Linked DNA regions of Homo sapiens. The protein of the gene in region 2 interacts with the protein of the main gene of each other region in a pairwise test. Each region holds a gene or a part of one and is shown on either strand. Other genes may lie near its edges. The genes, in order: TSHR and PTDSS1.

The links.
Region 1: the proteins of PTDSS1 (region 2) and TSHR interact in a two-hybrid assay, tested with the Homo sapiens proteins (one large-scale study listed by BioGRID and IntAct).

The regions. Positions count from the first base shown.
Region 1 is NC_000014.9:81,140,298-81,143,713, reverse strand, and holds part of TSHR (thyrotropin receptor isoform 1 precursor), read right to left. Parts: intron 775-3,416; coding exon 1-774. UniProt on the Homo sapiens protein: Receptor for the thyroid-stimulating hormone (TSH) or thyrotropin. Also acts as a receptor for the heterodimeric glycoprotein hormone (GPHA2:GPHB5) or thyrostimulin. The activity of this receptor is mediated by G proteins which activate adenylate cyclase.
Region 2 is NC_000008.11:96,292,887-96,296,709, forward strand, and holds part of PTDSS1 (phosphatidylserine synthase 1), read left to right. Parts: intron 1-2,211; coding exon 2,212-2,370; intron 2,371-3,823. UniProt on the Homo sapiens protein: Catalyzes a base-exchange reaction in which the polar head group of phosphatidylethanolamine (PE) or phosphatidylcholine (PC) is replaced by L-serine. Catalyzes mainly the conversion of phosphatidylcholine.

The DNA.
Region 1 (3,416 bases), on a different chromosome or scaffold from region 2:
AGAAGGAAGCAGCAAACCCAGCCCCCAACCATGATGGCACATGCGTGCCTGAGGCGGATCTTCCGGTCCAGGCGCATGGCGAAGGTGATGGCATACCAGCGCTCCAGGGTGATGACCGTCAGCGTATACACCGATAACTCGCTTGCAAAGACAGTGAAGAAACCAGCCGTGTTGCACCCAGGGCCTGTCTGCCAGTCGATGGCATGGTTGTAGTACTCAGAGTGAGTGTAGAGGTCTACAGAGGCGATGAGGAGCAGGTACATCCCCATGCAGAAATCCGCAAAGGCCAGGTTGCACATGAGAAAGCGGGGGACGTTCAGTTTGTAGTGGCTGGTGAGGAGAATAAGCAGGACAAAGACATTGCCCAGGAGAGCCAGCAGACTAACGAACCACACCACAATTCTCAGGAACTTGTAGCCCATTATGTCTTCACACGGGTTGAACTCATCGGACTTGGGGGTACACACCATGTCTTCACTGTCCCCACATATGGTGTAGTCATAATGGCTGTCAAAAGCTTGTAGAGTCTCTTCCTGGGGGTTTTTGAGCTCCTGGCCAAAACCAATGATCTCATCCTCTTGTTCTTCAAAGAAGACGTAATAATGAGCGTTGTTATGAGTATCCTGGAACTTGGACTTTTCCTTGTACCCAACAATGCTGTCACCCAGATTCTCTTCATATTCCTGGTGGAGGGGGCTATTCAAGGCATTCACAGATTTTCTCTGGCGCAAGCTCTGCATACTGCTCTCATTACACATCAAGGACTCAAGGATTCTGCAAGGCAACAGAAAAGAGTCAGTGCCAGGCTGGGCGCAGTGGCTCATGACTGTAATCCCAGCACTTTGGGAGGCCAAGGCAGGTGGATTGCTTGAGCCTAGGAGTTTGAGACCAGCCTGGGCAACATGGTGAAATCCCATCTCTATAAAAAATGCAAACATTGGCTGGGCATGGTGGTATGTGCCTATGGTCGTAGCTACTCGGGAGGCTGAGGTGGGAAAATCACCTGAGCCTGGGGAGGTCAAAGCTGCAGTGAGGCGAGATCAGGCCACTATACTCTAGCCTGGATGACAGAGTGAGACCCTGTCTCAAAAAAAAAAAAAAAAAAAAGAATGCTTGTTTAAAACCCACGAATGGTTCCCACATTTATGAAAATGTGCAAACTACTTACTATGATGTACATAATTCTATAAGGTTCTACAGGATCCAGGCAGGCCTGTTTCTGTGACATCATTCCTATGACCTCCCCTCCCCTACTGTGCTCCAGTGGCATTGGTCTTATTTCTCTTCTGCAACCACTTCAAGAACAGTGATTAAAAAAAAAAAAGTGGCCAAGTGTGCTGGCTCACACCTGTAGTGACTCAATCCCAGCACTTTGGGAGGCCAAGGCAGGCACATCACTTGAGGTCAGGAGCTTGAACCAGCCTGGCCAACATGGTGAAACCCCATCTCTACTGAAAATCCAAAAATTAGCCAGGCGTAGTGGCACGTGCCTGTAATTCCAGCTACTTGGGAGGCTGAGGCAGGAGAATCGCTTAAACCTGGGAGGTGGAGGTTGCAGTGAGTCAAGATTGCGCCACTGCATTCCAGGCTGAGTGGCGACAGAGTGAGACTCTGTTTAAAAAAAAAATGTGGATGCTGGAGCCAGTCGCCTTGGTGGGAACCTGGCTCAATTATTGACTAGCTTGGGTAGGCCCATGAAGTTTGGTTAACTCATTTGTAACATGGGACAATGGGAGTGACTATTTCATATAGGGTTATTAAAGGATTCAATGAATTTATCTTTTTAAGGCTCTTACAATAGCACCTGCAGCTTTGTGAGTGCCATATGGTGGTTATTGTTATTATTATTCCTATTCAAAGCTCTAAAACCCTATGTTCCCATTGCCTGAAAAACCCATGGCTGCCTCTACTCATCATTATTTAGTTTCAAACTGAATATTTTAAAAATAAAACATTTATGTATTTTTAGTAGATACAGGGTTTCACCATGTTGGCCAGGCTGGGCTTGAACTCTTGACCTCAAGTGATCCGCCCACCTCTGCCTCCCAAAGTGCTAGGATTACAGAAGTGAGCCACTGCCCCCGGCCAGCCTGTTTATTTTCTGACTTCCTCCATTAGACAGTAAGCAAAATACAAGAGGGAATTCTTGTCTGTTCTATTTACAACAGCCAGGCACATAGAAGGTGCTCAGTAAATATCTGTTTAACAAATGAACAAATGGACACTACCATACAGGCATGCTTGTGGAAATAAGATTTAGTTTTTTCCTTGCTCACCAGACTCACAACAAAAGGGATTCTTTAACTTGCCTCAGCTGCTGAGCAGAGTTTGAGTGATCTCTTGGGTTCTGCTTAAAATGTCCAATGGACTTGCTCTTCTCAACTGGAGGCTAGGGAAAAATCTAGACCCTGCCCCTGAGGTCCACTTAAGCCTCCCACCCAGCCCTTGTCCAGTCCTTCTCAATGCCGCATGGCATCAGTGTAGAGTCCACTATCACCATCCTCTACCCCACTCCTGGCTTTTTGCAGCTATGATGCCCATATTGGCCTTCTTTGTGTGTGTGTGTGCATGTGCCTGTGTGTGATGGAATCTCAGAATCTTGCTTTGTTGCCCAGGCTGGAGTGCACTGGCACGATCTCGGCTCACTGCAACCTCCGCCTACCGGGTTCAAGCAATTCTTCTGCCTCAGCCTCTCCAGTAGCTGGGATTACAGGAACCCACCACCACATCTGGCTAATTTTGTTTTTTGTATTTTTAGTACAGACGGGGTTTCACCATGTTGGCCTGGCCGGTCTCGAACTCCTGACCTCAGATGATCTGGCCATCTCAGCCTCCCAAAGTGCTGGGATTACAGGCGTGAGCCACTGTGCCCGGCCACCATATTGGCCTTCTTTGTATGGCTGTTTTAGCTTCTGCCCTCACACCTAGATCTGATATTTTCCTGACTGCAATTATGTGTGTAGTAAGTCAATCACTAAATACATAGAAGCTGAGGAGGACTGAATAGAGATGATGAAGGTGGATTAGGAGAACAGGAGATTGTACAAGACACAATGGGGGAAATAATGCAGAGTAAAAGCAAAAAAGTAAAAGAATCAGAGAAAGCCTGGAGAGAAAATGAAGGCAATTCCTCCTTCGCAGGCTCATAAGCAGCCTGATGTGCACATACTGTATATCATAGTTAATATTAATGAAGATCTTATAATATTCCAGGCCATTCCATTCCAGTGTTTTCCATTCAGTTTCTCATTTAATCTTCTCAAAACTGCTATGAATGTTAGTATTAGGATCTCCATTCCCAAAGACTCAGAGTGGTTAAGTAACTAGGCTGGGATAACACAGCTTGAAAAATGGCAGAGCTGCGGTATAAACCCAGCTGACTCCAAAGCCTGCAGGCATGTAACCAGGGAGCTATG
Region 2 (3,823 bases):
TGCTGTCTGTAAGCAAATAATTTCCAAAGAGGACCCAAAAGAGGTTGGATCTCTTTCTTCTTCCAAAGTCAGCAACTGCCCCAGAGAGGAGTGAAGAGATAGTTGGGCTGGAGACCTGGCGTGTGTAGTAGTGGAGATCCTTCTACATTGGGACGGGCATGCTACCCAACCCCTTTCTTCCCACCTCCTGCCCCAGACACCCTTACACACATGCATGCACGTTCCGTGATCTGATTATGATTTTCAAGATCTCTCTGTAGTCGTAAGCTAGATGTGAATACCTAGGTGCTTATTATAGCATCATCTATACTTTGTTATATGCCTGACACATTCCACAGTTTTCAAAAGCTATTATTATGGAAGTCTAAGCAAGAAATAATAGTGGCAGCGAGATGCATAAAAGAACAACCTGGGGAGGTAAAGTGAATAGGACTTGGTATTTGGTTAGGTGTCCAGCAAGCAAGGCAGAGGGTAAGGCCGCCAAGATCAGCCTAGGACCAGTTGGGAAGTCAGCAGAATCTGTCTTTACCCATCTTTTGCTCACAGGCATGCACCTGTCCACTTGACCCCCTTTCCAGGCTTCAGCTCTACACTGTCTTCAGTTAAAGCCTGTTCCTCCTGGTTCCCAGGGTTCTGCCTGCATGCAGCTCTCTGGCTGCTTTAAACTGCAATGCCCTGTGGCCCTTCCAGGACAAGGACCTCAGGTCTTATGAGGGGATAATTGGCAAATCTGTTCATTACTAACTATACTGCAAATAGACGGATTGGTCTTTATGATTTTTAAAATGCCTTTCCGCATGTCAAAGCATAGAGCTACTTAATAGAGTGTAAAGTCCTCCAGAGTTATCTGCAAGCTGTGATTACTTTAAGAGCAGCCTTCTAAAAACAGATCTTACCCCTTCCTTATCTAACCCTACACAGTGTATTCCAGAGTAAAGAAGAGGGTGGGGTGGTTGAGACATTTGAGGTTGACTGGACGTGGCCCTGCTCCTTAACCTAATATACAACCTGCTTCAGCTAAGGGCATTTCCCTCTGTCAGCCTGTGATTCTCTGTGACAAGAACGTGCTGTTCCAGAGTCCGGGAAGAAACTTTTCATCTTATTGCAGGGCAGTTTGTTTCTTTTAAAGCCTTATCTTGACTTACCCTATTGAATTTTATCCTCTTTTCTCCAGATTTCCCATTTACACAGCATAATCTCACATCATACTGCTTCTCAAAAAATAGAATTCTTAAAAATGTTTGTTCAGCTTTGCAAGTTGAAATGCATTTTATCTGAGAAGGAAATCTGATGTGTGGTGGGTTTCAGAAGAGACAGGGAAGCTCTTTTGCTCTCAGAAAGTATCATTTCTGGAATTTAAAACTATTATAGTTTATAGGAATTTTTTTCAGCTGGCTGATAATAGGGGGTGAATATTTGCCAACTCTTACTACTGCCTGTCAAATTAATTTTGGGAAGAAAGGATGTGAAATGTAGAGATTCCCAGTAAATGTTATATTATCATATTGTCATGCAGTCATATGATAAGATATTAAATTACTTAGAAATACGTATAATCAAAAACAAAGATATTAGAAATGGAACCAACATTCTGAAAAGCTTTGTAATTTTTAATATTTAAATTATGTAGTATCCGATATATTTTTGGGGAGGGGAGTTCTCTTTTAATTACTGAAGTTGGGTGCTTTTCTTCTTTTTTCTAGCATAACTATTTAAGGCTTTACATTTTCCTCTAAAGTTCAATTTTTACGTGGTGTATTTTCGTTATCATTATGACACGTTAAAAAAAATTCCTATTATGATTTCTTCTTTAATCCATGATACTTAGAAATGTGTGTTTAAATTTCCAAATCTATTGGGAATCTTTTATTTGTGCTTTAGTTACTGGCTTTAATATTGTTGCCCTGTGGTCTGATGACATGATCTATGTGATACCACTTCTTTAGGATATGTTGAGCCTTTGTAAAATTATTTTGCTTCTCATTTTAATGCAGCTTTTGCAATTCAGAGCAAAGCAGTTTTGATTTATAAACTCAAATACTTGTCTATTTTCCCTCAAGGCCCTTAAGTTATTAAAACTTTCTCATTTGTTACTGAGCAGGACTTATTTGTTGTCAAGTTCATATCTATTCTTTTTATTTACCGGCAGAATCCTGGAAGCAAGTTGATTTCTAGAGTTTCACTAATTATTCTCTTTTTTATTTTAAATAGGAGTATGCTGTGAACTGCCATGTGATCACCTGGGAGAGGATTATCAGCCACTTTGATATTTTTGCATTTGGACATTTCTGGGGCTGGGCCATGAAGGCCTTGCTGATCCGTAGTTACGGTCTCTGCTGGACAATCAGTATTACCTGGGAGCTGACTGAGGTAAGAAGGAGGGCATTGGGGGTTCCCCAGACTGTGCCATGTGTGTAGTTTATATATAGGAAAAAGTATGTCAGTTAACAGTCAGTTAATCCGTTCTCCAGCCCCTGTGGTACAAAACAGTATTTAAACCATCCCATAAGAATATTTAATACTTCTGTTTAAAAAACAAGCAAATATTAAAAATACCTCCTTGTTAACTTAATAAAGTGCACCTCTGTCCTGCAAGTCTTAAAGAGAAACAAATGAAATAAAGCTAAAGAATGAAGTTAAAATTCCAAGTAAGACAAATAAATGGGAATGAGGAGACCTGCTTAGAATTCAATAGATCAGTTGACCTACTAACTAGCTTCCAGTTTGAGATAATAGAATTGTGTGTTCAAGTACTATAAGAGCATCCAGGGTATTTGGTAGCTGCAAAATGGATTCCAAATGTTAGCTCTAATATGTCAGTAATCAAAAGTTTGTTGCATTTACTTAATAAAAGAGTTATAGTCTTGAAAAACCATTAGCAAAATGAAATTTTGGGAACTAACTCATTATTGTTCTATTATTATGAATCATTCCCAGTGAACAGAATTCGTCCACATGCGCAGTATACTTCTCCATGCTCATCATTGTCCTGACCCTAACTTAGAGACGTGTGCCAACTAGATGTGGCTTCTGTTAATGTGCCTCTCACTGTTCTGGAGGCCAGAAGTCCAAGATCAAAGCGTCGGCAGGACTGGTTCCCCCTGGGGCCTTTTGGAGCATTTTTTTCAGGCTCCTTCTCTATCTTTGTGGTTTGCTGGCAGTCGTGGTCCCTGGGCTTGTTGATGCATGACCCCTTCCTGGTCATGTGGCATTCTCCCTGTGCGTGTCTGAGCCTTCATGGTGTTCTTTTTTTTTTTTTTTTTTTTTTTTTTGCGACAGAGTCTTGCTCTCGCCCAGGCTGGAGTGCAGTGGCACGATCTCAGCTCACTGCAAGCTCCGCCTCCTGGGTTCACGCCATTCTCCTGCCTCAGCCTCCCGAGTAGCTGGAACTACAGGCGTGTGCCACCACGCCCAGCTAATTTTTGGTATTTTTAGTAGAGACGGGGTCTCACCATGTTAGCCAGGATGGTCTCAATCTCCTGTCCTTGTGATCTGCCCACCTCAGCCTCCCAAAGTGCTGGGATTACAGGCGTGAGCCACTGTGCCCAGCCCCATGTGTTCTTTTTCATAAGGACACAAGAGCATTCCCTTTTATAAGGACACAAGTCATATTGGATTAGCAGCTCACTGTACTGCCTATGATCTCATCTTAACAAAGTACCTCTCCAATGACTATCTCCAAATAAGCTCAAATTCTGAGATATTGGAGGTTAGGGCTTCAACATAGGAGTTTTGAGAGGACACAATTCAACCGATCCATAATAGTGCCCAACACTTTACATATGCCTTCTAAGTCCTCACAACAAACCGGGAAAGGCGGTGC